4 linked regions of the Homo sapiens genome follow. The protein of the gene in region 3 interacts with the protein of the main gene of each other region in a pairwise test. Each region holds a gene or a part of one and is shown on either strand. Other genes may lie near its edges.

Region 1 (7,579 bases), on a different chromosome or scaffold from region 3:
CTAAGTTCCAGGCCTATGATAATGCTTTACACTCACTGGCTTGCCAAATAACTTATAAACTATACAAACTTTATTATCAGGAACTGTTATATTTAATAACTCAGGCAAAATATTCACATACTCTTACCAGTACTAATAGTCATTACCATGATTGATCTTTTAGGCTGTCTTTGACAAACAGAAATGGACAGTGTCGTACGGTTCCAGCATTTAACCTCTCCTCCACCTCAATCTTACTTCCCTACGTTTCTCTTTGCCTCTTCTTTCTCACTTAGTTTTGAATCAATTATACTTTGTCGATCTGTTAGCTGTCTTAGATCCTTTTAGGAGCAGCATACAAATAGAAAAATACAGTCTCCCATATCCCACAACCAAATATAACCACAATGAACATTTTTGTGTATTGCTTTCCGGTATTTTTCTCTGCATATTTATGTACATATTGAAGCCAGGTTGAAGACAGCCTGTAATTATGTCAGCCCTGTGTTCTGTTCCGTTAGCATTTCTCCATTTAAACCTGACTCTTTGAAGTCCAGTGCTGTCTCATGACTAGATAACACATTATTTGACTTTTCTGGAATTCTGGCTGTATCTAAGGGGATAGGTTTCCTGTCACTGAGCCTGACTGAACAATTCTGAGATTATCAACACTGCCATAGGGCCCCGAAAAAGCGTCTAATGAATGCAAAAGTTCAAAGCGGTTTTGTTCAGGTGTTATTTTTGGAGACACTTTCTCAGGCTTTTATGATGCAATCCACTTTGTGCCCCTCTCTTGCAGCAGCTGCGGCCAGGGAAAAAGCACTAAGTGGGCTTGCTCACTGGTCCTCAGGGGTGGGTACCCTGGGCAGGTCAGCCCAGAAGTCAGCTGCCTCCTCTCCAGGCCCTGCCTGGACAGCTGAGAGTCAAGCAGACAGTTATGTGCCATCCCTACCTCTTTTCTGTCTTCAGTAACTGGCAGCTTCATCCTGCCAGAGAGTTTGGAATGAGCTAGGACTTTCCCATCAGTCTGAACTCCTGGGTTTTCCCAGGCCTGGTGACTCAGAGGGTAAGGCACCGAGCCGAGGAAGAGAAAGGAGAACCTGGACTCCTGGGTGCCTTTGTCTCACCACACAATCACCTCCCAGGAAGGCTGTCATCCAATCACTCCTGTGGAATCTCTCTGCCACTTTGTTGTAAAGAAAGTCAGCCCCAGTGAAGGGTAAAAAGAAGTGCCAGAGGGCCTTGGGGACAAGCCATATACTGGTAGAAAGGGCACTGGGGCAGGGTCCGAACAGCTGAGAGTATGTCTAGCACCAGGATGAAAATCAGTAGTTCACAGAGCTGCTTTGTTTGACCTACTCCGTATTTTTTTAATGGTACATTTCACATAAAGACCTGTATATCTGGCTTCCCCACAAAAGTCAAGATCTGACAGCATCTGACTATATTTTCTCATGCAATATCTGAAGCTGGGTAGCAGCCAGCCCTGGATGGGGTGTTTCCTCTCCAGATTAACACAGAGCCTACCAACTTGTTAAATCTCACCTCATAGGACAATAGGCGCAAAAATATACTGAAATGAGTTGAAAAAATGGTAATACTTTTTTTTTTTGAGACAGAGTCTCACTCTGTCGCCCAGGCTGGAGTGCAGTGGCACGATCTTGGCTCACTGCAAGCTCTGCCTCCCAGGTTCATGCCATTCTCCTGCCTCAGCCTCCTGAGTAGCTGGGACTACAGGCACCCGCCACCATGCCCGGCTAATTTTTTTTTGTATTTTTAGTAGAGACAGGGTTTCACTGTGTTAGCCAGGATCATCTCGATCTCCTGACCTTGTGTTCCGCCCGTCTCGGCCTCCCAAAATGCTGGGATTACAGGCTTGAGCCACTGTGCCCGGTTTGGTGACACTTTTTTGATGAAAGTATTTTTTTTTAATTTAATTTTTTTGAGACAGATTCTTATTCTGTCATCCAGGCTGGATTGCAGTTAGCTCTCACTGCAACTTCCGCCTCCCGGGTTCAAGTGATTCTTGTGACTCAGCCTCCTGAGCAGCTGGGATTTTTTTATATTTTTAGCAGAGACGGGGTTTCGCCATGTTGGTAGACGGGTCTCCAACTCCTGGCTTCAAGTGATCTGCCTGCCTCGGCCTCCCAAACTGTTGGGATTACAGATGTGAGCCACCACACCCAGCCTCGATGAAAGTATTTTAGATGTTTGTATTTATACATAAGGCTCTATGTTTGAAGTACTAAATGGTGAGAGTATTTTGTATCTCAGATGGAATAACGATAGGAAAATGTTCTTCAGCAAATTGTACTCTCCTAAAGGGAGAGATTATAGAGTGATGAACACAGACACGCCATCTACCTTTCCTCCAGACTTTGTAAAAAAAAATTATATAAATTACAATCCCAAACTAGAATCAGATACCATCCCTGATCTACTACCAAGATCTATACACATTAAGAGAACAATGTTCGGGATTGAACCTGTTTTGCCTTTTTAATCGGAACACAAAAGGGATACCTTTTTCTTTCTCCAAGTTTTTGAAATTTTGGTCTCCCTCCTACATTCACTCCTTGTTGAAAGTAATGGAAAGGCAATTAGGTCTGTGTCCCAAATGAAAGCCCACAGTCAGGAGGGGATTCTCATTGAGGTGACTGTCCTGTTAAGACCTGCTCCTGTGAACCCCCAAGCACAGGGCAGAGCAGGACATGAACTAAGAGCCAGGCTTTGCCGAATCCGGGTCGAGTTCACCGACAGCAGTGTGTGCAGCACGCTTCCTCCTCTGCACCCTGGCAGTAGAGCCCTTCCTCATTGTAAAGCCAAGTGGTGTCTGCAGTCCGCCTTGCCCAGGGCTGGAGGCAGAGCTGAGCTTGGTGAACAGGTGCCAGGGGATTCCTGTCATCAGTGGACTATGCTTTAGAAGCTGCTTGTTGCAAAGGTACTGGTTGATCATTGTCTGAGAGTTGGATCTGAAGGCCAACACCCACTAGCAAAACCATCATCCCTGTAATAACAGCAACCCAAGCAGATTTGATTTCTCCAGTGAAGGTTCTAGATGAGTCTAATCAAGGCTTCCCACCCATCTTCTCCCAACACCAGAGTTTCCCTGTGAAAACGATCATGGTTAACTCGCACTGAATACTATTTATGTGCCAAGTACCATTCCACATTCTTTACATATTTTAGCTCACTTTACTCCAACGGGGACCATTATTCCCAGTTTGCACATAAGCAAATGGAGCCAGGGAAAGCAAGGGGCAGAACAGGGAACTGATTTCCCGGAGTTTCGGCCCAGAGTCAGTGTGCTTAGCCACCGCCAACACCAGCCCCAGAGCTCTAGGCTCCTGGAAGTCGTGCTCCCGAGTCCTTCCCCTTGCACAGTGGAGAGAACTCGATGTTGGAATGAAACCAGCTAATTCCAGTAGGGTGCTTCCGCTGTTGTGAGGAGCTGGGCAACTAGTAAGCTCACTGAGCCTCACTGTGCTCCACTATAAAACCAGGAGAGTGCGCAGCAGAGGAGAGGGTCTGGGTTTCAGAATAAGAAGCAGGTTTTCTTCCTGCTCAGCAAATCCTGGGTAATTGTATCATATCCCCTAACCCCTTAAACCTCAGCTAGAGAGGGCGCCAGTCTTAGCCCCAGGGAAGGCTTTCGTGTGCACATTGGAGACAAAGCCTGCCCAGCAGTGCCCGGCACAGAACTGGGGAGCTGTTGGGATAAGCATGGGGGTGGACTCTCCCTGGGACAGATCCTATCTCACAGCAGTTTGGAGAACTGTTGTATACACACGCAGGTGACACGAGGCAGAGCAGGATGTGAAACGAGCGCAGTGGTTTGCCAAACCCGCAGCAGGCTTAGGACGGAGTGGTGAGAACAGCCCCCTTCCTTTTCCTCAGCTTGACGGTCCCAGCCTTTCCCATTGCGGACCTAGAGCCCAGACTCCCAGGGCAGAAAGCGCCCCACAGACTGATAAAGGTGAACAATCCAGGCTTTGTTTCCAAGGGCTTTATCCCTGACTTTCCAACTGGCTTTTATCTGTGTCTTCACGTCTCTGACCTCTTGAGCCTCACAGGAGCTAGACTAGAAGGTTCAAGTTCTTGAGGAGAAGGCAGGGGCGGGAGAGCCCCACTTGCGGGAATCTCGTGCGGACCGAGTCGGGGCGGGAGAGGGCGCGCACCAGCCAGGCTAGGGCGCGCGGGGCGCCGAGGGGCGCGGGGCCGTTTGGGGCCGTTCGGGCCAGTTCGCGCGGCGGGGCCCGTCGGAGCTTTTCTCTCGGCAGCCTGGCTGGCCGCGCGTCTTCTCCGCGCAGCGGGCGAAGTCGCGATGGGTTCATTAAGGCGGCAGGTAGGCAGTGCCCCGGCGGCGGCTGCGGCAGGCGGTCCTGGAATGTGCGAGGGGCGTGATGACAGCGGCCAGCCTCTTTGCGCAACACCTTCGCCATATATACCCGGGGCGCTGCGCTCCACCTGGCCGCCGCCTCCAGCCCAGCACCTGCGGAGGGAGCGCTGGTGAGTACCGCCGCCGGGGCAGGGGCGCTTCCTCGCTCTTTCAAGGACTTTGATTCACTTAATTCTTGCAAATACCTCTCGGTGCTGACTTCAAGGAACTTGGCTGGCTTTGGGCCGCAGAAGTGAAAAACACAAAGCTCTCCACAATGTTCAAGTTGTTTTCTTCTTAATGTTACGGTTATTGCTTTTATTACAGCTTTTGCTGCTACACTCTTACGATCGACAGTGTTATTAATCAGCCACACTTGTGGATTCTAAAATGATCACTGTTTTGAGAGTCGTGGTTTGGAAGAGGAAAGGCCCAGGGGATAGAAATCTCCACCTAGGAATCAGGATAGCTAGGCTCTTTGTGGCTGGGTCACCAACTAGCCATGTGACAACGCTAGTCCCTGTGAGCCCCTGGGCTGCCGTCTTCCATTCTTTATAAGAAGGGGAATGCGACATCTCAGGACCATGAAAATTCTAGGTTTGTGGTGGCTGCCTGGTGATGTGACACTGCCCCCCACCCAAGTGTGACTTCCACGTGGTACAGTGCTTGTTTGCAGTTATTTAAGGTGCCTAGGAGACAGTCTTAGTTTGTTTCTATTAGGGCCCGTGGCCATCAGCGAAGGGTCCGTCCTTCAGCCGTCTTGGGGAGCAAAGCCCGCAATTTATGTTTTCCAAGCCACAAATGGGTGAGCAGGCTGGGGAGATAACTTACAAGGAGATGTGCACAGGAGTGGTTGGGTTCGGGGACTGCGCATCCTCAGGCCAGAAAGTTGGGGGCTGCATGGCATGGAGTTAGTTCAGGTTCCCTGCAACGGTGCCTGCCACCGGTGGCTCGCACTGCGCTGAAGAGAGTTGGAATCTCGTTTTCTTTGAGGAGGTCCCTTTTTCAAACATGTTGATTTCATGGAAGCAGCTTGTGGATTTCATCACTCGAGTCCCCTCTTCCTGTTTGGGTGCCCCAGGGGGTTTCTGTGTTAGCCCTGATCGCTCTGGGCCTTGTCGTTCTTTCCTTTTTCCTTCTTCCCTTGTGTGCTGGCAGTTCTTTAACTTGTCCTGGGTTGGGTATTCTTGGAAAACTGTGCTTGTAGGAGTGGCCGTTGTTTCAGATTGTTAAAGAAAAACAAAAATAAAAAAGATTGCCTCTTTTGTCCCATGCCCGCTGATCATGATCTTCTCTGCTTTTGTAATTTGGGGAATGGGTGATAAGAAAGGCGTGCTTTGTAAAAGGTTTGGATGCTAAACAAATTGCCCCATCCAAAACTCCCCAAATTGCTCAACTGTCTCAATGAAGCAAGTCCCCTGTGGTATGAGGATGGGCTTCTGATTGTTGCTGTTAGACACAAAGGGGACAAAAAAATAGCCCGAATTCAATGCAATGAGGAAAACAGCCTCACAGAATCAGAGTGCTTTGGAATAAACTGGGCTTTAGTAACCAGTTTCAGGCATCTTCCACTCCTCCATCCTCACCCACACCCCCACTTCCATTCTGGGGACCGCAGGGAGCAATCAGGACATCCCAGGGAATTTATTCATCTCAGTGAATTTTTAAAATGCAAAGGTACAAAAAGAGGGCTATAAAAAGATTGCGGTATTTTTAAGATGTTTATATTTACAAATTTAACTGCTTTAACCTCCCCCCCCAATACAATGCAGCACAACTGATATAGTTACAAGTTATTTACAGGATTTATTTTAAGATATCATAAATACAAATTGATAGTGCATGGTGAGGGTGTGGTTTGGTGATATGGCCCAAGTTTAAAGTTTATTAGTGTGCCACATCAAAAATGTAAACTCAAGTTATCTATCAATGTGAGGCCCAGGCCAATTGCTTCCTTGACTCCTCTCATCACTACCACCATTGTGTCCTTGAAGAGATTATTATTAGCAGTAATGTAGGGACAGGGTCTCACTATGTTGTCTAAGCTGGTCTCAAACTCACAGGTTCAAGGGACTCTCCCACTTTGGCCTCCCAAAGTGCTGGGATTATAGGTGTGAGCCACCACCCTTAGCCTATAGGGGTGATTATTTTTCCTTGTGATGGCTGTAAGGGAAGCAGAGGAAAAGGAGACGTCACCCTCTTGGGAATTTTTGAAGCACAGAGTCATTCTTTCAAAGTACAAGAAAGTTTTCCTGGGCATCCCGAGAACACTGGCCTGCATGAGGTTGAAATTATCTCTGCAGTGTTGTGGTGCCTATGTGATTTGAAGCCATTAACCTCTCTGTGGCTCAGTTTTTCCCTCTATAGAATGAGGATACTGTTCATTTTAAAGGAGACTCTAAGTTTACATAGATACATGAAATGCTGTGAGTAAATTTGTGCACCAATTTGCAAGTGCCAGGCACAAAGTCTTTAATAAACACTACTTGGCTACCATGTGCCCAGCACTGTCCTATGTGCTGGGGATACAATGGCCATACTCTAGTCCCTGTGCTTGTGAAGGCTGCCATTCTGATGGGAGACTGTGTGTCCATGTTCTGGTTCCTCACAGGACCACTGCCCTGGGCTTCCTCCTCTCCCCATTTCTTCAGATGGCCTTGACTGCTGCTCTGGGCACAAGGGGCCCAGGAACAGGTCTTGGTTGGAGAAGCCCAAACAATGCGAATGTAGGGGTTGGGTGACTGCCAGGTACCCTACATTCCCCTGCTTCCCAAGTCTGAGCCAAGTCAAGAAAGTTCCTCTCCTGGGTCTTCAAGAAAGAATAAGAGCTCTTTCTGGCAGTGGGTGCCCATGTGGTGCAGGAAGTGGAGCCAAGAGGGTGAGGCACACAGGCAACTCGGTTATAGAGGCCAGTGTGGCAGCGGGGGAGCCCCTCCCTGGGCTTTAGTAAAAAGCTTCCAAATGATGACTTCTCCCTTCCTCTGCTGCTTCTGGCAGGTGGCAAGAATGTGCTGGAGTGAGGCCTTGGGAAGGCTGGGAGAGAACAAGGCAGTGGTTGCGCCAGGGCTATGGGGGTAGGAGAAAGGCTTAGAGGGGCTCAGAGCTCCAGGGTACATTCTCTGCCTGCACCATTTAATACCCACCCCCACCCACCCACCCCACCCCCACCACCCTCCCCTCCTGCTCATCCATTGCAACATTCTTGGGCGGGCATTTCCAGCA
Region 2 (7,321 bases), on a different chromosome or scaffold from region 3:
TGAACAATGTTGACAATAGTGAAATTCCCACATTAGGTTGGCCCATCATTAGGTTGATAGGAGTTAGCCAATACAATGAAATGGAACATCATCACCCTTTCTATTGCTAGAAGTAATGTGTTAAGGTGTCATCTTTACAGGTCCATGGGTTGATGAGTTTCATTTTGTTCAGACGTAAAGAAACAAATAGCTTCTGGGTACGGTGGCTCACGCCTGTAATCACAGCACTTTGGGAGGCCAAGGCTGGCGGATCATGAGGTCAGGAGATCGAGACCATCCTGGCTAACACGGTGAAACCCCATCTCTACTGAAAATGCAAAAAAATTAGCCAGGCGTGGTGGCGGGCGCCTGTAGTCCCAGCTACTTGTGAGGCTGAGGCAGGAGAATGGCGTGAACCCAGGAGGTGGAGCTTGCAGTGAGCCGAGATCGTGCCACTGTGCTCCAGCCTGGGCAACAGAGCAAGACTCCATCTCAAAAAAAAGGAAACAAATATCACAGCTCAGCCTGGGCAACATGGCAAAACCCTGTCTATACAAAAATTAGCTGGACGTGGTGGTATGTGCCTGTGATCCCAGTTACTCGAGAGGCTAAGGCACGAGAACCGCTTGAGCCTGGAGGCGGAGGTTGCGGTGAGCCAAGATCACACCACTGTACTTCAACCTGGGCCACAGAGGGAGACCCTGTTTAAAAAAAAAAAAAAAAATCAAGTGTTTATTCATTTTTTCCTTTAGGAACCTACTAGTTAAGACAGGTGAGACTGACATGTACAAATATGAAGAAAATATATAGGTAACTAAATAAACATTGAATGAAGGTAAAATCAACATTAAGTTTGTATACAAGTAAAAAGTATTTGTGGAGTAGTGAATGCAAGATTAACAATTGGAGTTTGAAGTTGGGCTGGAGTGGGGTTGCTGGAAGTTGTTATTTTGGTGATGCTGAGAGAAACAGGGAGGAATAACTGGTAGAAAAAATCTGGAATGGGGGGCTGGTTGTGGTGGCTCACCCCTGTAATCCTAGCACTTTGGGAGGCTGAAGGGGGAGGATAACTTGAGCCCAAGAGTTTGAGACCAGCCTAGGTAACATAGTGAGACCCTGCCTCTACAAAAAAATACAAAAATTAGCCAGGCATGGTTGTGCATGCCAGTAGTCCCAGCTACTTGGGAGTCTGAGGTAGGAGGATCACTTGAGCCCAGGAGGTTGAGGCTGCAGTGATCCGTGATTGCACCACTGCACTCCAGCCTGGGTGACAAAATAATAATATTCAGGTCGGGAGAGATGATGGGGATGTGAATAGGACATTACGTAAAGGCTGATTATTGGGAAATACATGAGGGAAGACCTTTAATCCTAATCTTCATAATCTGGCAGTAACTACATAGCATCAGTCTCTACAGTTCTCTGACCTCAAGTTTTGGGCAAATATAGTCACACATCACTTTATTGTACTTCACTTTTTTGTGGTTCACAGATAGTGCATTTCTTTCCAAATTGAAGGTTCGTGGCAACCCTGGGTCAAGCAAATCTATCACACCGTTTTCCCAACAGCATGTGCTCACTTGGGGTCTGTGTGTCACATTTTAGTAATTATAATATTTCAAACTTTTTCATATGATTATAACTGTTATGGTGATCCATAATCAGTGATCTTTGATGCTGCTGTTGCAATTATTTTGGGGCACCACATGTCCATGTAAGACAGTATATTAGTTCATTTTCTTTTTTTTTTTTTTGAGACAGAGTCTCGCTCTGTCGCCCAGGCTGGAGTGTAGTGACGCGATCTCGGCTCACTGCAAGCTCCACCTTCCGGGTTCATGCCATTCTCCTGCCTCAGCCTCCCGAGTAGCTGGGACTACAGGCACCTGCCACCACGTGCAGCTAATTTTTTGTATTTTTAGTAGAGACGGGTTTCACCGTGTTAGCCAGGATGGTCTCGATCTCCTGACCTCATGATCTGCCTGCCTCAGCCTCCCAAAGTGCTGGGATTACAGGCGTGAGCCACTGCGCCCAGCCTATTAGTTCATTTTCATACTGTTGATAAAGATACCCAAGACTGGATAATTTATAAAGAAAAAGAAGTTTAATGGACTCACAGTTCCTGGTGGCTGGGGAGGCCTCATAATCATGGCAGAATGCAAAAGGCACATCTTACATGGCAGCAGGCAAGAGAGAATGAGAACCAAGTGAAAGTGGAAACCCCTTATAAAACCATCAGATCTCATGAGACTTATTCACTACCATGAGAACAGTATGAGGGCAACTGCCCCCATGATTCAATTATCTCCCACCAGTTCCCTCCTACAACACGTGGGAATGATGGGAGCTACAATTCAAGATGAGATTTGGGTGGGGACACAGCCAAACCATATTAGACAGTGAACTTCATCGATAAATGTCATGGGTGTTCTAACAACTCAACCAATTGGTTATTCCCGTCTCCCTTCTTCTTGGGCCTCCCTATTCCCTGAGAAACAGCAATATTGAAACTAGGCCAATTAATAACCCTAGAGTAGATTGTGAGTCTTCAACTGAAAGGAAGAGTCATACATCTCTCTGATTATGCTTAGTGAGAACAGCAAAAGCCAAGACAGACCGAAAGCTAGACCTCTTGTCCTGAGCAGTTAGCCAAGTTGTGAGTGCAAAGGGAAAGTTCTTGAAGGAAATTAAAAGTGCTACTCCAGGGAACACACAAGTGATAAGAAAGTGAAACAGCCTTATTGCTGATATGGAGAGAGTTTTAGTTGGCTGTTGAGAAGATTAAACCAGATACAACTCTTTTTTTGTTTGTTTGTTTGTTTTTTTGAGACAGAGTCTTGCTCTCTTGCCCAGGCTGGAGTGCAGTGGCGTGATCTCGGCTCACTGCAAGCTCCGCCTCCCAGGTTCATGCCATTCTCCTGCCTCAGCCTCCCTAGTAGCTGGGACTATAGGCGCCTGCCACCACACCCAGCTAATTTTTTTGTATTTTTAGTAGAGACAGGGTTTCACCGTGTTAACCAGGATGGTCTCGATCTCCGGACCTCGTGATCCTCCCATCTCAGCCTCCCAAAGTGCTGGGATTACAGGCTTGAGCCACCATGCCCGGCCAGATACAACTTTTTTAAAGCTAAAGGCTGATCCAGAGCAAGACCCTAACTGTCTTCAATTCTGTGAAGGGTGAGAGGTGAGGAAGCCTCAGAAGAAAAGTTTACAGCTAGTGAAGGTTCTTGGTTCATGAGATTTAAGGAAAGAAGCTGTCTTATTACATAAGTGCAAGGTAGGCTAGGCGTGGTGGCTCAGGCCTGTAGTCCCAGCACTTTGGGAGGCTGAGGCGGGCAGATCACTTGAGCCCAGGGAGTTCGAGACCAGCCTGAGCAACATGGTGAAACCCTGCCTTTACAAAAAATACAAAAAAGTCATGGTACCAGCTACTCGGGAGGCTGAGGTGGGAGAATCACCTGGGCCCAGTAGATCAAGGCTGCAGTGAGCCATGATGACGCCATCGCACCCCAGCTTGGGCAACAGAGTGAGACTTTGTCTCAAAAAAAAAAAAAAAAAAGATGAACCAAGCACTGATATAGAAGCTGTAGCAAGTTATTCAGAAGATCTAGCTAACATCATTGTTGAAAGTGGCTACAATTAAAGAGCTCCTCAGTGTAGACAAAATAGCCTTATACTAGAAGAAGATGCCATTGAGGACTTTGATAGCGAGAGAGAAGTCAGTGCCTAGCTTCAAAGGAGGGGTGATCCTCTTGTTAAGGGTTAATGCTGTTGGAGGATTGACTCCAGTTTTGAAAGAAGTTGTGGTAAAATGCTATCAGACAGTATTGCATGCTTTAGAGAAATCTTCATTGAAAGGATGAGTCAATGCAGCAAACTTCATTATATTTTAAGAAATTGCCACAGCCACTCCAGCCTTCAGAAACCACTGCCTTCATCAGTCAACAGCCATCAACATGGAAGTGAGACCCTCCACCAGCAAAAAAAATGATGACTCACTGAAGGCGTAGATGATCTTTAGCAGGTTTTAGCAAAGTATTTTTAATTAAGGAATATATATTTTTAAGACATAATGCTGTTGTACACTTAATATACTATAATATAGTGTAAACAATTTTTATATGCAGTGGGAAACCAAAAAATTTGTGTGACTTACTTACTGCAATTGCAATATTTGGTTTATTGCAGTGGTCTGGAACCAAATTTGAAATGTCTCTGATGCTTGTACTGCTCTAATCTTGTACCTTTTAAAATCTTTCGGCTGGGTTAGTTGTCCTAGTTTCAACAGTGCTATGTATGAAATATATACATATGGTCATGAAATACATTTTTTTCCTGCAGAAGTCAAATTTTCTACTACTCTACTGGGATGACTGTGGGAATTGTGGCCTCTCTGCTAATCATCATTTTTATACTATCTAAGTTTATGCCTAAGGTAAGTATCAGAATCTTCATGTGCAGCTAGAATGAATTTGGATAGCTGAAGGACTGTTTTCCTGGGTAATCTTAGAAAACTGAAAATGTGTATTGATGGCTGATGAGTCAATATCCTACTCTCCTTGATTCAGAAAGGTACTTTCCACGATGAAACTTGGAGCCTGATTACAAATTCTTTCTTTTTATATAAAATCCTGTGCTCAGAGGGGGATTAAAGTCTGCTTCCTGTTTTTTAATTATATAGCCAGGCTTTTAAGTTATTTAGCATTTCATCTTCCCAGTGTTCGTTGCAGACTGTACCATTTTAAGTATAAAGGACATCTTTTTAAGAGAAGTGTTTTTTGTGCATTTTGAGTAGGTTGAATTTTTTAAAAAAAAAATCATAGTTCCATTTTGCTTCTTTTATGTATGGAAAGCCTGTTGTAACTTTTTGCTTTCACTTCTACTCTCTGTCTTAGAAAAGTCCCATTTACGTCATCCTGGTGGGAGGCTGGTCTTTTTCTCTGTACCTCATTCAACTAGTTTTTAAAAATTTACAAGAGATCTGGAGGTGTTACTGGCAGTATCTTTTAAGTAAGTGTTGTCGGTTTTGCTTTCCTTTTGTACGTTTATAGGCTGTTTCAGTTAATTTGATCATGAAAAGATTTTGCCTGCTTATGGGATTTAATAGTTCATGTCATTTTTTTAAACTTTTAAAAATCATAGTTTTTCACTTATTTCTAATCCCTCTACAATTATCACCTTCTCTTAAATTAGAATGGTGCTGTTAAGGCGAAGATGTTCATTTATTGGTATTTATAAATATACCTTTCTTTACACAATAAACATCTTTCTGAAAAGCTGTAAGTTGACTTTATTAATGGAATCATATTTTAAATATACTTGGGGACCTTAAGTAAAAGACTCCGCAGTTAATTTTTTTCTCCTTCATTTCTGAATGAACTGCTGTAGATTTTATTTACAAAGTAAAAATCCTTGGTCATATAGATAGTAACCTTTGAGTTATCCTTTGAAGGGTGATTAATCTGGATTTCTGTATATTGGTTTTTTAAAATAGTCTATTTCAGGGTTGTTCAACATGTACCTTTAATGTTCTGTTTGAACCAAATAAATTTGGGACAGCAGAAAGGATAGAAACTTAGAGAAATATATTCTAAGAAAAAAGTGTGAAAAATTAAGTAAAAATCTGATTTCCTAGTTCAATTGGTGCTATATAGTAAATTAACTACTGCTTCCCACACAAATTATTTTTACCAAGTATAGATGAAAAAGAATGTCTTCTGATAACTCTTCTCATAGGTTATGTCCTCACAGTTGGATTCATGAGTTTTGCAGTATGTTACAAGTATGGGCCCTTGGAGAATGAACGAAGTATCAACCTGCTGACCTGGACCTTGCAGCTGATGGGCCTGTGTTTCATGTATTCTGGCATCCAGATACCACATATTGCCCTTGCCATTATCATCATTGCTCTTTGTACTAAGAACCTGGAACACCCTATTCAGTGGCTGTACATCACCTGCAGGTGACTGAAAGGCAATGTAACTTAATATTGACAGGTACATTGTGGGATGCAGTTGCAGCAAGAGGATACAGAGGTGTTGACCTGGGAGCTTCTTTGTTAATGAAAAGTCATTGTATTGTACTTCCACTTTTGTTCCTTCCCGAGTCTATTTTTTTTTTTTTACTTTCTATAGGAATTTTTATATTTTTATTCTAGTCATTTTATATAAAATGTCTAGTAAAATGTCATGTGTTCCTGTTACCACAAGGTGGTGCAAATTCTATCACTGTTTTTTTGAGATGGAGTCTCGCTCTGTCGCCCAGGCTGGAGTGCAGTGGCGTGATCTCGGCTCACTGCAACCTCCACCTCCCGGGTTCAAACGATTCTTCTGCCTCAGCCTCCTGAGTAGCTGGGATTACAGGCATGCGCCACCACATTCAGCTAATTTTTATATTTTTAGTAGGGTTCCCCATGTTGACCAGGCTGGTCTTGAACTCCTGACCTCAAATGTCAGGAGTTCATAAAGTGCTGAGGAGCTCCCAAAGTGCTTGGATTACAAAGTGCTGGGATTACAGACATGAGCCACTGCGCCCCGCCACAAATTGTATCGCTTTTATACCGTATGCTCATTGAGGTCTCCTGGGTTCAGATTTTTTTTTTGAGACAGAGTCTCTCTCTGTCACCCAGGCTGGAGCACAATGGCGTGATCTCGGCTCACTGCAGCCTCCACCTCCCGGGTTCAAGTGATTCTTCTGCCTCAGCCTCCCGAATAGTTGGGACTACGGGTGGGCGCCACTATGCCTGGCTAATTTTTGTATTTTTAATAGAGATGTGGTTTCACCATGTTGGCCAGGGTGGTCTCAAACTCCTGACCTCAGGTGATTTGCCCACCTCAGCCCCACAAAGTGCTAGGATTATAGGCGTGAGCCACCTCACCCAGCCCATTTCAGACTATTTCTCAGTGGCTTTCAGATTGCTCTGGAGGTCTTAGTCTTATTTTAAGATGTAATTCATAGCATGTTTTGTCACCTTGCATAATAAATATGGAATGTTACTAGGTCCTGAAGTTGTCTATTATAGATAGTCAAGGTGATGCTTTCAGTTTGGGAAACCAAGTTACTGGACCACAATCTTTTTTTTTTGAGATGGAGTCTTGCTCTGTCACCAGGCTGGAGTGCAGTGGTGCTATCTCAGCTCACCGCAACCTCTGCCTCCTGGGTTTAAGCGATTCTCCTGCCTCAGCCTCCTGAGTAGCTGGGGTTACAGGTACATGCCACCATGCCCAGCTAATTTTTGCATTTTTATAGTAGAGATGGCGTTTCACTATGTTGGCCAGGATAGTCTCAATCTTGACCTTGTGATCTGCCCACCTTGGCCTCCCAAAGTGCTGGGATTACAGGTGTG
Region 3 (7,321 bases):
GGCATCAGTATTTTTTAAAGCTCCTCAAATAATTCTAATGTGTTGTGCCTAAAAGTTGGGAACCCTGATCCAGATGAAGGTAATTTAGAGATCATCTGCTCCAACCCCTTTGTTGTCACAAAGGAGAACGCTTAGGCTGTAGGAAAATTGAGTGTCTGCCCTCTCAGATGTATCGATCATACAAACACAAATTCTCCTTACAGTCCCATCTATCTCTTCTCATTAGGACAAGTGCTTCCCGTGTCCAGATCAAGGATGCCCACAGATGGGTCACTATGCTGATAAATTTGCTGGCAGGACAAGTGAAGAGCAGCAGAAATTCTTCTTGAACACAGGAGAGGCTAGCAATTTCGCTCGTAAGTTGCACTTTGACTACCTGCCCATGTAAAGAAAGTATATAGTTTCTGTTACAAATGAGGGGCTTGCTTTCAACCTGAAATATTTGTGGGTACATTTTAATTATCTTAGAAATGGACACATTTACCGAAACTATTGCAGTTACAAGTAAACTGAGGATTTAGACAGAGTGTGCATTTCTTCCGTTCTATTTCTGCGGCATGAAATGAGAGCAAGCAACTAGTATAATTAATGGGATGAGGCCAGTTTGCACATCCTTGTGACCAGCTACCCTGAATTTTTACCACTCCACAGTTCATTGTTTCTTTCCTTTTTAAGGCCGCATCAGACACACCTGTTCTCTTCATTCAGCAAAGACGTAATTGGTACCAGCTCTTTGCTGGGCTATGTCCCTTAAGAAGCCCAACTCCATTCTCTGCTTTCCCCTCTGTCTGTGCATCCCTGATGCCCAGGGGCTGCCTCGCTGGTGGAGTGCAGGCAGGAATCAGGGGGAAGGATGATTTCTCTCCAAAACCTGCTGAATGGACTAAGACACAGGGTAGAGACTGGGCATGTTTGGGCCACTTTGTACCAACCTGCCCCATGACACTTCCATAGGAGGTGACCCAGTAAAGACAGAGGTTACATATTCATATAAATGTATAACACATCTTACATAGTTTTTAAAGTCAGATTTATTGAGGTATAATTTATATTTGGCAAAATGCACGCTGTTTAGCATACACTTGTATGAGTTTGGACAAATGAATAGTTGTGTAAACACCTCCAAATCAAGATACAGAACACTTCTATCACCATATATATCACTCTGTAATTTTTTTTTTTTTTTTTGAGACGGAGTCTCGCTGTGTCGCCCAGGCTGGAGTGCAGAGGCGCAATCTTGGCTCACTACAACCTCCCCCTCCCGGGTTCACGCCATTCTCCTGCCTCAGCCTCCCGAGTAGCTGGGACTACAGGCGCCCGCCACCATGCCAGGCTAATTTTTTTTTTACATTTTTAGTAGAGACGGGGTTTCACCATGTTAGCCAGGATGGTCTCGATCTCCTGACCTTGTGATCCGCCTGCCTCGGCCTCCCAAAGTGCCGGGATTACAGGCGTGAGCCACCGCACCCGGCCCACTCTGTGTATTTTTTTTGTAAGAAGACATTGATTAATCAATCCTTCCACTGATGTTGTGATGCATGAAATACTTGCCAATATTTCAACAACAAATTAAACACTCAAAAACCAGGTATTCATTCCTCAATCAACATTTATTTATGGGCCACAGACTATGCTAGACACTGAGGATGCAGGGACGAACAAGAGACTCCTCTCATGAAATTAATAATCCAGCCAAAGACAGAAACTGGGCAAGCAACTACAAGCGTGTTGGGCTTGGTGGCTGTTGCCATGACATTATGGGACAGAGAACCTGGCCCTGACCAGAAGGAGGGTCAGGGTCAAGGTCTCTGAAGACACGAAAGATGAATAGGAGTTAGGCAAGAATCATGTCTGTGTATATTAATGTACATCTGTGCACATGTGTGGGTGTATGAATGCATGTGTGAGTGTGTTTGTGTATGTACCTTTGTGTGTATGCATGTGTTTATATACGTATGTATATGAGTCTGTATGTTTATGTATATGTATGTGCATGTGTATGTATATTTGTATGTGGGTGTCTATGTATGTGCGTGGTTAAATGTGTGTAGGTTTGTGTGTGTGTGCACATACACATGCATGTTTGTGTAGATGTATGTGTGTGTGCACATGCACATGTTGTGTATATGTATTTGTGTATGTGCACGCACATGCATGTTTGTGTATATGTATTGTGTGTGCACATGCATATGTTTGTGTATATGTATTTGTGTGTGTGCACGCACATGCATATGTTTGTGTATATGTATTTGTATTTGTGTGCGTGTGCATGCAGGCCCTGGGACAGCATTTCAGGTAGAAGCCTAAGTGACAGCTGCTCGTGCACCTGCTCTGTGCTAGAGACTGCCCAGGGCCCTGGGGAGCAGAGAGGAAACACAGTCCCCGCCCTCGAGGTGCTTGCCAGGCTGCACTCCCGAGCTACCTTCCCAAATGTGGAGACAAGCCCCTATTCCCTCTCTCTTCACCTTACCTTACTGTACTGCCATTCTGGGGCAGAGCTGGCTAACAGAACTTTCTGCAATGAGGGGCATATTCTGTGTAGCCATTAGCCTCATGTGGCAACTTAACATTTGCAACACAGCGAATGAGTTTGAGAAACTAAATTTTTAATTGTATTTAATTTGGATTTAAATGTAAGCAGCCACATGTGGCTGGTGACCTCCTCCCTGGGCAATGCAGTTCTAGAGGGGGATACTGCTAAATACATACTTCTCCATAAGGCCTTGTTTGATTTGTAGATTAACAAATAGAATTTCTTATACTTTGGCTGGGTGTGGTGGCTCACGCCTGTATTCCCATCACTTTGGGAGGCGGACACGGGCGGATCACTTGAGGTCAGGAGTTGGAGACCAGCTTGACCAACATGGCGAAACTCTGTCTCTACTAAAAATACAAAAATTAGCCAGGCGTGATGGTGTGTGCCTGTAGTCCCAGCTACTAGGGAGGTTGAGGCAGAAGAATTACTTGAACCTGGGAGGCAGAGGTGGCAGTGAGCCAAGATTGCACCACTACACTCCAGCCTGGGTGACAGAGTGAGACCCCATCTCAAAAAATAATAATAATAATTTTTTAGAAAAGAATTTCTTATGCTTTGTTGCCTCAGAGTAAGAGAAGGAGACAAGTCTGGGATGTAGGCTACTTATTTTGTGTGTGAATAAATTGAACTCTTCCATCTCCTGTGCAGGCTGGAGATATGGGGTTTCCATCACACTGTCTGGAAGAACAGCCACTGGTCAGATCAAAGTTGCTTTGTTTGGAAATAAGGGAAACACTCACCAGTACAGTATCTTCAGGTAATTTCCTATTTTAACACTACGTCTCATTTGATGATATACACAGCCTTCAAACCACACACTTAATTTGAACACTTATCATCTCTTTATATGTCACTGGTTTTTAATTATAGTCATGCAACATGTAACAACATTTTAGTTGATGGACCACATACACAACAGTTGCTTTATAAGCTTGTAATACCATATTTTTACTGTACTTTTTCTATGTTTGGGTGTTTAGATACACAAATACTTACCATTGTGTTCCAGTTGTCTACAGAACTCAATACAGTAACATGTAGTACAGGTTTGTAACCTAGGAGCAATAGGCTGTACCATACAGCCTAGGTATGTAGTAGGCTGTGCCATCTACGTTTGTGTGAGTACATGCTATGATGTCCACACAATGATTAAATTACCTAAGGACACATTTCTCAGAACATATCTCCATTGTTAAGCAACGCAGGACTATATAACTTTATGTACTGATGTTAATTGCAGACTTCTGCTAATAATTTTTCTTTTCTGTTATAAACCTAGGCATTTCGTCCTTTCTCTCTCTTTTTTTTTTTTTTTTTTTTTTTTGAGAAAGAGTCTTTGCTCTGTCACCCAGGCTGGAGTGCAGTGGCACGATCTTGGCTCATTGCAACCTCCGCCTCCCGGGTTCAAGAAATTCTCGTGCCTCAGCCTCCCAAGTAGCTGAGATTACAGGCATGTGCCACCACACCTGGCTGATTTTTGTATTTTTAGTAGAGATGGGGGGCGTTTTGCCATGTTGGCCAGGCTGGTCTCGAACTTCTGACCTCAAGTGATCCACCCATCTCGGCCTCTCAAAGTGCTGGGATTACAGACGTGAGCCACCATGCCCGGCCTCTTTCTCTTAATAGATGTTTTTTTAAACATAAATCTAATATTACTTCAGATATGCTGTTTTCTGATTAGTGCAATAACACATGCTTATTGTGCCATACTATGTGGCCAATTTGTTACTGTACAAATAATTCTTCCAAAACATATAAAATGATATGCAGGAATTCTATTTTATTTTCTATTAGAAAGCTTTAAGGAAAAATTAACTTGAGTTTTAAAAACCATAGTTTGAGGTGCTAGCATATAGCTGGCTTTTCCATTTCTCCATCCTTTATTTGGAAATTAATTCGGAAAAATAATCCTGTTAATCTAGAAGAGAAAACAGCAGCCTGGCATTGTATGGTAATTAGAACTCATTTCCGTGAACAGGGATGTTTATGTTTCTCTATTTCAAGGGGGATTCTCAAACCAGGCTCAACCCATTCCTATGAGTTTGATGCAAAGCTGGATGTTGGAACAATTGAGAAAGTCAAGTTTCTTTGGAATAACAATGTGATAAATCCAACCCTCCCCAAAGTGGGTGCCACCAAGATCACTGTGCAAAAGGGAGAAGAGAAGACAGTGTATGTATCTTTGCTGGCTGGTGCCTAAAAATGTTTGCAGAGATTCATGTTATAATGAAAACCCACCCTAGAAAGTTACGTGTAGTTAAGCAAGAAAAGCCAAGAAAATTTACCCATCTGTGGCCCCTTCTCCCCAAACAAGCAACTGACAAACAGCATAAAATGTTTCTGTTGGGTGCACCTTATTGGGTGTTCTCAGCACTGCCTGTGGGAATACAGAAGATAAGGCTGCACTTTCAAGGTAAAATGAGAAAATACAAGAAAGAGAACAAGAAATCCTTTCTGAAGGGTACAAGTTTATAAGTATGGGCTAGTGAATAGCTATACTTGAAAGAGGAGAAGACCAATTACATTTCAGGATAATAAAACGGAAAATAAATCGGTTTTAGGAAAAGATCGAAAATTTTACATAGGACAAGAATGCACTAGGATTGCAATACTTGTGAGATCCTGACCTGTGGTCTCCCTGGCTTTGGGCCTGAATAAGCACAGGGCCGTGGGTAGGAAAAAGGGACGGCTGGAGGAAAGTTGGAGTGGTGACCTGAGAGGGCAGAGCGACTGTCTCTCAAACCTCAGACCCCAAGTCTGGCTAGTAGAACATGTGGCTTTGTGGGAAGGAGATCCTGGGCTCTCAGCCACCGATGTTCTTGAAGTTTGGGGTTAGGTGGAGTCACCGAGTTCAGGTCCCAGAGATTGTCACTCCCCCAGGTGGGGAGGGTGGGGTGGCAGAGTAGAATGGGGGCTGACTCCACATCTGGGTCTCCTCGAACTGGATGACTTAGTGAGGTTCTCCTTATCCCCACGAGGCAAGGAGAACAAAGAGGTTGGCCCTGCCAGGTGGTGGGTGGAACCAGGAGGCCTCATAAGCTAGAGCATAGTACAGAGGAGGCTGGGCCGGGCTGGTCGGGAGCCCTGTGCAAGCTGGAGGTGCAACCAAATCCTTTCCTCCCTGACCCCATCAGAGGATACTCAGCCTCTAAATTCAGCTCCCCAAGGCCCCATTAGCAAGCATCCCATGGCCTGGATCCTGGGACTGTGTGGTTAAAAACATGTCAGGTGGTGGCATCATTGGAATCTTAAAAATTAGAGGTGTTCCCAGGAGATGACTTGCTCACAGGTAAGGCATACAAGTCCAAATCAGCCAGGGCATTGCATCTTCCAGGTTTTCTGAGGAAAGGCTGAGGCTTTCTGAACTTTCTGCAAATGGAACAGAACATACTTAAGGCTGCACCTGAGGTCCTGTGCCCATCAGCTGTCACCTGCATTCCAGTGGCTGAGTGCAGCTCCCCTCGCTGTCTGCTCCAGAAAGACTCTTTCTTAAGAGCAGCTGGATATAAGACATCAGGTTTTCTAAACAGAGGAAAGTCAAAACAGCTTCAAATCTCTCAAACTAGTTTGGGAAGTAAAAACACTGAATTAGTTGAATTACTCAAACATTTTCCTGTTATGAAAATGGCCAGTAACATTTAATAATAATAATAATAATAATAATAATGAAGAAGCTAAAGAAAATCAAGATTTTGGTCCAAGCTCTTCTCAGAATCCCCTCATATTTTTTAGTAACCTCATTGGGGTTTCAATTCCTACTAAGGAATCTGCCGACTAGGATTCCCTCCAATGACACAGTATCCAAAGAGAAAGGCAGCCCTCCCCCTCTTTATTTCTCCGTCCCCCTCTCTTTATTAAGTACCTTTGGTAAATGTACCCTTGCAAATGACTTTATTCAGTACCTATTGTATGGCCTGGCAAACAGTAAGGGATGCAAACACTGAGCCTACACTCAAGGAGCTTACAGTTCAGCTGTTGAGAAAAATCAGACTTATGGTTCACAGGGAAGGTCAAAAGACCAAATAAAGAACTCCCAGGAGAGGCTCAGAAAGACAGTGGCCAAGGAGGAAAGCAGAGGGCCGCGGGGAGGCTGTGATGGAAGGAAGGGCAGCTCTCAGGATGAGGCAGGGAGTAGGAGGGAGGAAGGGCACAGGGGCAGGGCAACAGGTCCAAGTGCATGAGGGGCGACAGGGCCCAAGTGCAGGGAATATGATCGGAGGCCTCCGATGCCAAGTTAGGGCTTCTTGGCAGAAAAAATGAAACACAGAAGAGAAAGTGGGAAGGGGCCAAGGAACACCAGTGAGGAAATGGGGCAAAGCTTCCGAGCTCACAGGTGGTGAGGCCTGAGAGAAGTCCGTGGTTCTTGAACAACCACAAAAATAACTGCTTACATCTGCATTGTTTTTTGTTAATTGTAAGACTTTTTACATTTACCATCATGGGATGTTACGTTCTTATCATGGAATTCTCAACAGTCGTGGGAGAATGACTGAGATGGAATCTCGCTCTGTTGCCCAGGCTAGAGTACAGTGGCATGATCTCAGCTCCACTGCAACCTCCACCTCCTGGGTTCAAGAGATTCTTGTGCCTCAGCCTCCCAAGTAGCTGGGATTACAGGCATGCACCACCACGCCCGGCTAATTTTTGTATTTTTAGTAGAGACAGGGTCTCACCATGTTGGCCAGGCTGGTCTCAAACTCCCGGCCTCAAGTGATCCACCTGCCTCGACCTCCCAAAAGTGTGGGGATTACAGGCATGAGCCACCACACCAGGCCTTGCCTTGCT
Region 4 (7,321 bases), on a different chromosome or scaffold from region 3:
CACTCCCTGTGGGGTCCCCAGTACCCAGCATGGCCAGGAGAGGGAGTGTGAAGAAGCCATGCGGAAGGTCGGCGCTGCAGAGGCGCTTACATCCAAACGTGGCAAAGTCCACATGTGGATGGTGTCATCACTTAGAGGGGGACAACAGACCTCTCCAACAGGGCAGGACATCACAGATGCCCATCTCGGCTCAGTACGAGAACTCTCCGACCTGAGCAGTGTTCCAGCACAGAGCAGCTGCCTCAAGGAGAGACCCGTCCCTACACGTGTGAGCAGAGGCAAATCGCAGGAAAGACGGTGCAAACGCCACTCAGGATCAGGTGTGCAGGGGGCCCACCAACCTCTCCCAGGCAGCCCAGGCCTCAAAGCTGCCTCTACCAGAAGCTTCTGCATTAGGGGCAAACAGAGCCCCAAGGCCTTCTGGAAGTGGATTCCAGGACTATCAACTGGTCCTAAGGGTCAAGGTCAGACACCCATGTACCAGAAAATATTTGGAGGAAGAATAGAAATGAGATGGCCAGGCGTGGTGGCTCATGCCTGTAATCCCAGCACTTTGGGAGGCCGAGGTGGGCGAATCATCTGAGGTCGGAAGTTCGAGACCAGTCTGAACAACATGGAGAAATCCCGTCTCTACTAAAACTACAATGTTAGCCAGGCGTGGTGGCGCATGCCTGTAATCCCAGCTACTCAGGAGGCTGAGGCAGGAGAATCACTTGAACCTGGGAGGCAAGGTTGCAGTGAGCTGAGATCGCACCATTGCACTCCAGCCTGGGCAACAAGAGTGAAACTCTGTCTCAAAAAAAAGAATAGAAATGAGGACAAGAGATGAACAATTATGGTGCTGGCCAACCTCTAGTAGGGCAGCAGGGTGGGGCAAAGCACAGAGCACCCAGAGCAGGCCCGCTGCGGACCCCGCAAAGCCACCATGGGCACAATGAGGGGGCAAAGCTGCAATCCTAGGACATCTGCCACATGCTCCCTTGTGTAACATCCCTATGATGAAATACTAAAAGGATCCATGTTGTATGGCTGGCTACAAAACCAGGTTATCAAAAAAAGAAACTGAGTGTGCACACACCCGCACCTCCACACACCCGTGTATGAACGTGATACCCACATAGGGTCTGGCAGGCTCACGCTGAGCTGTGACCTGGGCCCTCTGCACGGGGCCCTGGGATGCGGCAATGGGGCAGGGGTGGAGGTCATACCTTACAGAGTTTTTGCTGTGAGCACATATAAATCATACATTATTTCTGGAATTAAGAAACAGTAGGGTCAGACGTGGTGGCTCATGCCCGTAATCCCAGCACTTTGGGAGGTCGAGGCGGGCGGATCACCTGAGGTCGAAGTTCGAGACCAGCCTGACCAACATGGAGAAACCCCATCTCTACTAAAAATACAAAATTAGCTGGGCATGGTGTCGCATGCCTATAATCCCAGCTACCTGGGAGGCTGAGGCAGAAGAATCACTTGAACCTGGGAAGTGGAGGTTGCGGTGAGTCGAGATTGTGCCATTGCACTCCAGCCTGGGCAACAAGAGCGAAAGTCCATCTCAACAACAACAAAAAGGAACGACAGTAACAGAGCCAGGCATAGTGGTGCATGCACATGGTCCCAGCTACTCAGAAGGCTTGTGCCCAGGAGTTTGAGGTTGCAGAAAGCAGCCTGGGTGACAGAGCGAGACCTTGTTCTAAAAAAACACAAACAAAAACAAAACAACCCACCAATAACAATAACAAGGGAAAATACCGTTAAAAAACAGGTTTCAAAATGTTATTATTTCATTTGGGTAAGAAAAAAACATGTGTGCCTGCTTACATAAGTATAAAACATATCACAGGGCCAGGCACGGTGGCTCACGCCTGTAATTCGAGCACTTTGAGAGGCCAAGTCGGGTGGATCACCTGAGGTCAGGAGTTCGAGACCAGCCTGGCCAACATGTTGAAACCCTGACTCTACTAAAAATACAAAAAAAAAAAAAATTAGCAGGGCGTGGTGGTGGGCACCTGTAATCCTAGCTACTTGGGAAGCTGAGGCAGGAGAACCGCTTGAACCTGGGAGGCAGAGGTTGCAGTGAGCCGAGATCACACCATTGCACTATAGCCTGGGCAACGAGAGCAAAACTCCATCTCAAAAACAAACAAACAAACAAAAAATCATATCGCAAGGTTAAGTGTGGTCTCATCTGGGAGGTGGTGATTTACTTTTTTTTGCTTTTTATTTTTTATTTTTTTGAAACAGAGTTTCGCTCTTGTCACCCAGGCTGGAGTGCAATGGTGTGATCTTGGCTCACTGCAACCTCTGCCTCCCAGGTTCAAGCGATTCTCCTGCCTCAGCCTCTCAAGTAGCTGGGATTACAGGCATCTGCCACCACGCCCGGCTAATTTTCATATTGATTGATTGATTGATTGATTGAGACAGCGTCTTGCTCTGTAGCCCAGGCTGGAGTGCAGTGGCACGATCTCGGCTCACTGCAAGCTCCACCTCCCAGGTTCACGCCATTCTCCTGCTTCAGCCTCTGGAGTAGCTGGGATTACAGGCATCTGCCACCACGCCCGGCTAATTTTCATATTGATTGATTGATTGATTGATTGAGACAGCGTCTTGCTCTGTAGCCCAGGCTGGAGTGCAGTGACACGATCTCGGCTCACTGCAAGCTCCACCTCCCAGGTTCACGCCATTCTCCTGCTTCAGCCTCTGGAGTAGCTGGGACTACAGGTGCCTGCCACCACGCCCAGCTAATTTTTTTTTTTTTTTTTTGAGACGGAGTCTTGCTGTCACCCAGGCTGGAGTGCAGTGGCGCAATCTCGGCTCACTGCAAGCTCCGCCTCCCAGGTTCACGTCATTCTCCTGCCTCAGCCTCGCCAGCGGCTGGGACTACAGGTGCCTGCCACCACGCCTGGCTAATTTTTTGTATTTTTAGTAGAGATAGGGTTTCACCGTGTTACCGGGATGGTCTCAATCTCCTGACCTTGTGATCCGCCTGTCTCAGCCTCCCAAAGTGCTGGGATTACAGGTGTGAGCCCAGCCACGCCCGGCCAATTTTTTGTATTTTTAGTAGAGACAGAGTTTCACCGTGTTAGCCAGGATGGTCTCGATCTCCTGACCTCATGATCTGCCCTCCTCGGCCTCCCAAAGTGCTGAGATTACAGGTGTGAGCCACCACGCCTGGCCTAATTTTCGTATTGTTAGTAGAGATGGGGTTTCACCATGTCGGCCAGGCTGGTCTTGAACTCCTGACCTCAGGTGATCCACCGGCCTCGGCCTCCCAAAGTGCTGGGATTACAGGCATGAGCCACCGTGCCTGGCCAATAATTTACTTTTCATTTTGTATTTTTTTGCTTCTCTCTGGTTGTCAACTTCTCTGTGAGCTCCTGGGACAATTACAGACACTTGCCCCAACAGTTACAGGAAACGGCCAGCTCCGTGCCATGGAAGCCTGAGATTCCTGTGAAGCCTGAGTCAGAGGCACCAGGCACAAGCCCAGGGTGGAGACTTGGGCCCTGGCAGATGATGTTCTCTGCTGTGACTCAGTTTTCCCTGCCACACCCCTCCTGTGCCTGCTGGGGGTGGCCAGAAATAGAGCAAGGGAGGGGCTCTGAAGAGGGCAAGTGACCGATGGAAGCAGCCTTTACTGGGGGCAAGGCAAAAGAGGGAGAGGATGGTTTTAAATCATAATCAGAGCTTTGAAAAAAAGGAGTCAGGCCGGGCACCACGGCTCATGCCTGTAATCCCAACACTTTGGGAGGTGGAGGTGCGGGGATCACTAGAGCCCAGGAGTTTGAGACCAGCCTGGGCAACAGGACGAAACCCCACCTCTACAAAAAATACAAAAATTAGGCTGGGCGCGGTGGCTCACGCCTGTAATCGCAGCTACTCAGGGGGCTGAGGTAGGAGAATCACTTGAGCCTGGGGAGGCAGAGGTTGCAGTGAGCGGAGATCGCACCACTGCACTCCAGCCTGGGACACAGGGCAAGACTCTGTCTCAAAAAAAAAAAAGTATGAACTCACTAATGAAAGAAAGTAAGAATCAAACAGGGCAGAGGAAGCCCACACAGCTCAGAGCACCCAGGGAATCTGCACAGATGTGAAAGGTGTCCAGGTCCAGTAGTACCAGGCTGTGGGGAATGACTCTGGGGGAGGGGGAGGAGGGAGGAGACCTTATCTTCAAATCTCTCACCCCCTGCATTCCTACCCCATAAATGGGGGATTGAACCTAAAAGTTCTGAGGGGTTCCTTCCATTCTGACCTTGCATGAGGCAGTGAGTGTGGTTCAGAGAAGGGGCTCTGTGGACAGAGAGACCAGGGTTTAAATTCCTCTGCTACTTCCTGGTGGCCTTAGCAAGAGACATCACCTTGCTTTCTCCATCTGTAAAATGGGTGGACAACAGTATCTACTTCAGAGCAGGACCATGCCCTGAGCACAGAGTAGGTGCTGGGCAATGCTGTGATGCTGACGAGGCAGCGGCGGCGGCCGGCACTCACCTCCCGGTCGATGAGCCGCAGCGGGTACTTGATGTCCGGGCTCTCGAGGGTGATGGCTGGCGTGGAGCGCTGGAACAGCTTCATGAGCAGACTGTACAGGAACCAGACTGGGAAGAGCACCATATGGCCCAACTGAAACGACAGGACCCGCGGGGTCAGTGCAGGAGCCTGCCTTTCCCCAAACACACCGGCTTGTCCACACTACCAGGCCTCTGCTCACGCTGCCCCCTCTGCCAGGAGCACCCTCTCCCCACCACCCTCATCCAGAAAGCTTCATCATCCATTTTGGTGCCCACTAGGAGAAGCTATAAAGACCAGCCTCATGACACCTGTCACTGAGCATTACCTGGGCTTCTATGCTCAGTACCATGAGAAAAAGCTCCATTTCCTCTGAAGAGCCAGGACCAAAAAGAGCTGTGGGTCTAAGCACATATCCTTTTTCACTTTGGCTACTAGGAAGCTCAGAGTAAAATTAATCTTGAGCATAATGTATTTGTGCTCCTTCCTTCTCTTGCTTCCTTCAGTCAACTTCCCTGGTCTTATTAAGTGATGTCAAGTTCTAGCTTGATTTAGACAAACAGACAAATAATAACCCCAACTCAGAATCTATCTGAAAGGCCTACACTGACCAAATGGCTCTATGGCACCTTTAAATCCAGTCCCTTGGGGCCACTGGGATTGATGCTCTCCTCTTTGCTCTCCCACAGAGCACACTAGAACAAGCCAGTGAAGCTGAGTAAACTGAGCCACTTCCCCCAAATGACATCCATGAGTGTCCCTGAGCCCTGGGGTTCTGCCATCAGGTGTAAGGGGAAGCGAAGCACTGAGCCAGGCACTGGGAAGGTCACTGGCTGTGTGACCCCGAGAAAGTCCCTTCCCCTCTCAACCTGAGTGGACCAGGTGATCTGCAAGGCCCCCAGAGCTGAGACCCTACAGCTCAGATCACCAAAGCCAACAGCCTCTGGGATCCCAGGGCCACGTCGGGTACCACACGGGCACGGCTCTCGCAGCAACCCCGTGTGGTAGGCACTGTCATCACCACCATTTCGCAGATGAGGAAACAGCCCAGAAAGGCAAAGCGACTCACCCAGTCACACAGCTGGCAGGTGAGGAGCTGACCCAGAGTCCACCCATCCCTTATACCACGCTGGGATACCTCATGACCAAGTGGACCCTGCCACACGGCCCTGAGGGGCTGTTCCTCCCCAGCCCCTGCCCCCGACATCTCAGTCTCCTGAAGGCCCTAAAAGGGGGCTGGGCATAGTGGCTCCAGCCTGTAATCCCAACACTCTGAGAGGCGGAGGCAGGTGAACAGTTTGAGTCCACGAGTTCAAGACCAGCCTGGGCAACAGGGTGAAACTCCATCTCTACAAAAAATATAAAAAGTTAGCTGGTTGTAGGCCCGGTGCAGTGGCTCACGCCTATAATCCCAGCAATTTGGGAGGCCAAGGTGGGTGGATCACCTGAGGTCAGGAGTTCGAGACCAGCCTGGCCAACAGGGTAAAACCCCATCTCTACTAAAAATACAAAAATTAGCCGGGCGTGGTGGCAGGTGCCTGTAATCCCAGCTACTTGAGAGGGTGAGGCAGGAGAATCGCTTGAACCTGGGAGGCGGAGGTTGCAGTGAGCCAAGATCATGCCATTGCACTCCAGCCTGGGCAACAAGAGTGAAACTCCATCTCAAAAAAAAAAAAAAAAAAAAAAAGTTAGCTGGTTGCAGTGTCACACGCCCGTGGTCCCAGCTACTCAGATGGCAGAGGCAGAAGATTGCTTGAGCCCAGTAGTTCGCGACCAGCCTGGGCAACATAGCAAAACTCTGTCTCTGTTGAAAAAAAAAAAAAAAAAGACCCTAAAAGTTGGTTAGAAAACCTGAATCCCTGGGCGGGCACAGTGGCGCATGCCTGTAATCCCAGCTACTCAGGAGGCTGAGGCAGAAGGTTGCCTGTGGAGGAGGTTGCAGTGAGCCAAGATCACACCACCACACTCCAGCCTGGGAGACAGAGCAAGACTCCATAAAAAAAAAAAAAAAAAAAAAAGGCCGGGCGCGGTGGCTCACGCCTGTAATCCCAGCACTTTGGGAGGCTGAGGCGGGGGGATCATCTGAGGTCAGGAGTTCAAGACCAGCCTGGCTAACATCGTGAAACCCAGTTTCTACTAAAAATACAAAAAATTAGCTGGATGTGGTGGCGCATGCCTGGAATCCCAGCTACTCAGGAAACTGAGGCAGGAGAAATGCTTGAAGCTAGGAGATGGAGGTTGCAGTGAGCCGAGATCGTGCCATTGCACTCCAGCTTGGGCAACAAGAGTGAAACTCCATCTCAAAAAAAAAAAAAGGCCAGGCGCTGTAGCTCACACTTGTAATCTGAGCACTTTGGGAGCCCAAGGCAGGCAGATTACTTGAGGTCAGAAGTTCGAGACCAGCCTGGCCAACATGGTGAAACCCCGTCTCTACCAAAAATACAAAAATTAGCTGGGTGTGGTGGCAGGCTACCCCAGCTACTCAGGAAGCTGGAGCAGGAGAATCATCTGAACCTGGGAGGCGGAGGTAGCAGTGAGCTGAGATCGTGCCACTGCACTCCAGCCTGGGTGACAGAGCGAGACTCTGTCTCAAAAAAAAAAAAAGTGGGGGGGGACCGGGCACGGTGGCTCACGCCTGTAATCCCAGCACTTTGGGAGGCCGAGGCAGGTGAATCACCTGAGGTCAGGAGTTGGAGACCAGCCTGGACAACATGGAAAAACCGCGTCTCTACCAAAAATACAAAAATTAGCCAGGTATGGTAGCGGGCGTCTGCAATCCCAGCTACTCAGGATGCTGAGGCATGAGAATCACTTGAAC

Evidence for each region.
Region 1: the proteins of PNLIPRP1 (region 3) and SLC34A2 interact in binary tests that used the Homo sapiens proteins (3 or more experiments, as listed by UniProt).
Region 2: the proteins of PNLIPRP1 (region 3) and NEMP1 interact in binary tests that used the Homo sapiens proteins (3 or more experiments, as listed by UniProt).
Region 4: the proteins of PNLIPRP1 (region 3) and CYB5R3 interact in binary tests that used the Homo sapiens proteins (3 or more experiments, as listed by UniProt).

Annotation. Positions count from the first base shown.
Region 1 is NC_000004.12:25,651,403-25,658,981, forward strand, and holds the start of SLC34A2 (sodium-dependent phosphate transport protein 2B), read left to right. Parts: upstream 1-4,448; 5' UTR 4,449-4,488; intron 4,489-5,061; exon of another isoform or gene 5,062-5,162; intron 5,163-7,579. UniProt on the Homo sapiens protein: Involved in actively transporting phosphate into cells via Na(+) cotransport.
Region 2 is NC_000012.12:57,061,736-57,069,056, reverse strand, and holds part of NEMP1 (nuclear envelope integral membrane protein 1 isoform a precursor), read left to right. Parts: intron 1-4,317; coding exon 4,318-4,411; intron 4,412-4,871; coding exon 4,872-4,986; intron 4,987-5,712; coding exon 5,713-5,938; intron 5,939-7,321. UniProt on the Homo sapiens protein: Together with EMD, contributes to nuclear envelope stiffness in germ cells. Required for female fertility. Essential for normal erythropoiesis. Required for efficient nuclear envelope opening and enucleation during the late stages of erythroblast maturation.
Region 3 is NC_000010.11:116,600,846-116,608,166, forward strand, and holds part of PNLIPRP1 (inactive pancreatic lipase-related protein 1 precursor), read left to right. Parts: intron 1-226; coding exon 227-356; intron 357-3,184; coding exon 3,185-3,293; intron 3,294-4,296; exon of another isoform or gene 4,297-4,540; coding exon 4,541-4,708; exon of another isoform or gene 4,709-6,058; intron 6,059-7,321. UniProt on the Homo sapiens protein: May function as inhibitor of dietary triglyceride digestion. Lacks detectable lipase activity towards triglycerides, diglycerides, phosphatidylcholine, galactolipids or cholesterol esters (in vitro).
Region 4 is NC_000022.11:42,632,230-42,639,550, forward strand, and holds part of CYB5R3 (NADH-cytochrome b5 reductase 3), read right to left. Parts: intron 4,618-7,321; coding exon 4,486-4,617; intron 1-4,485. UniProt on the Homo sapiens protein: Catalyzes the reduction of two molecules of cytochrome b5 using NADH as the electron donor.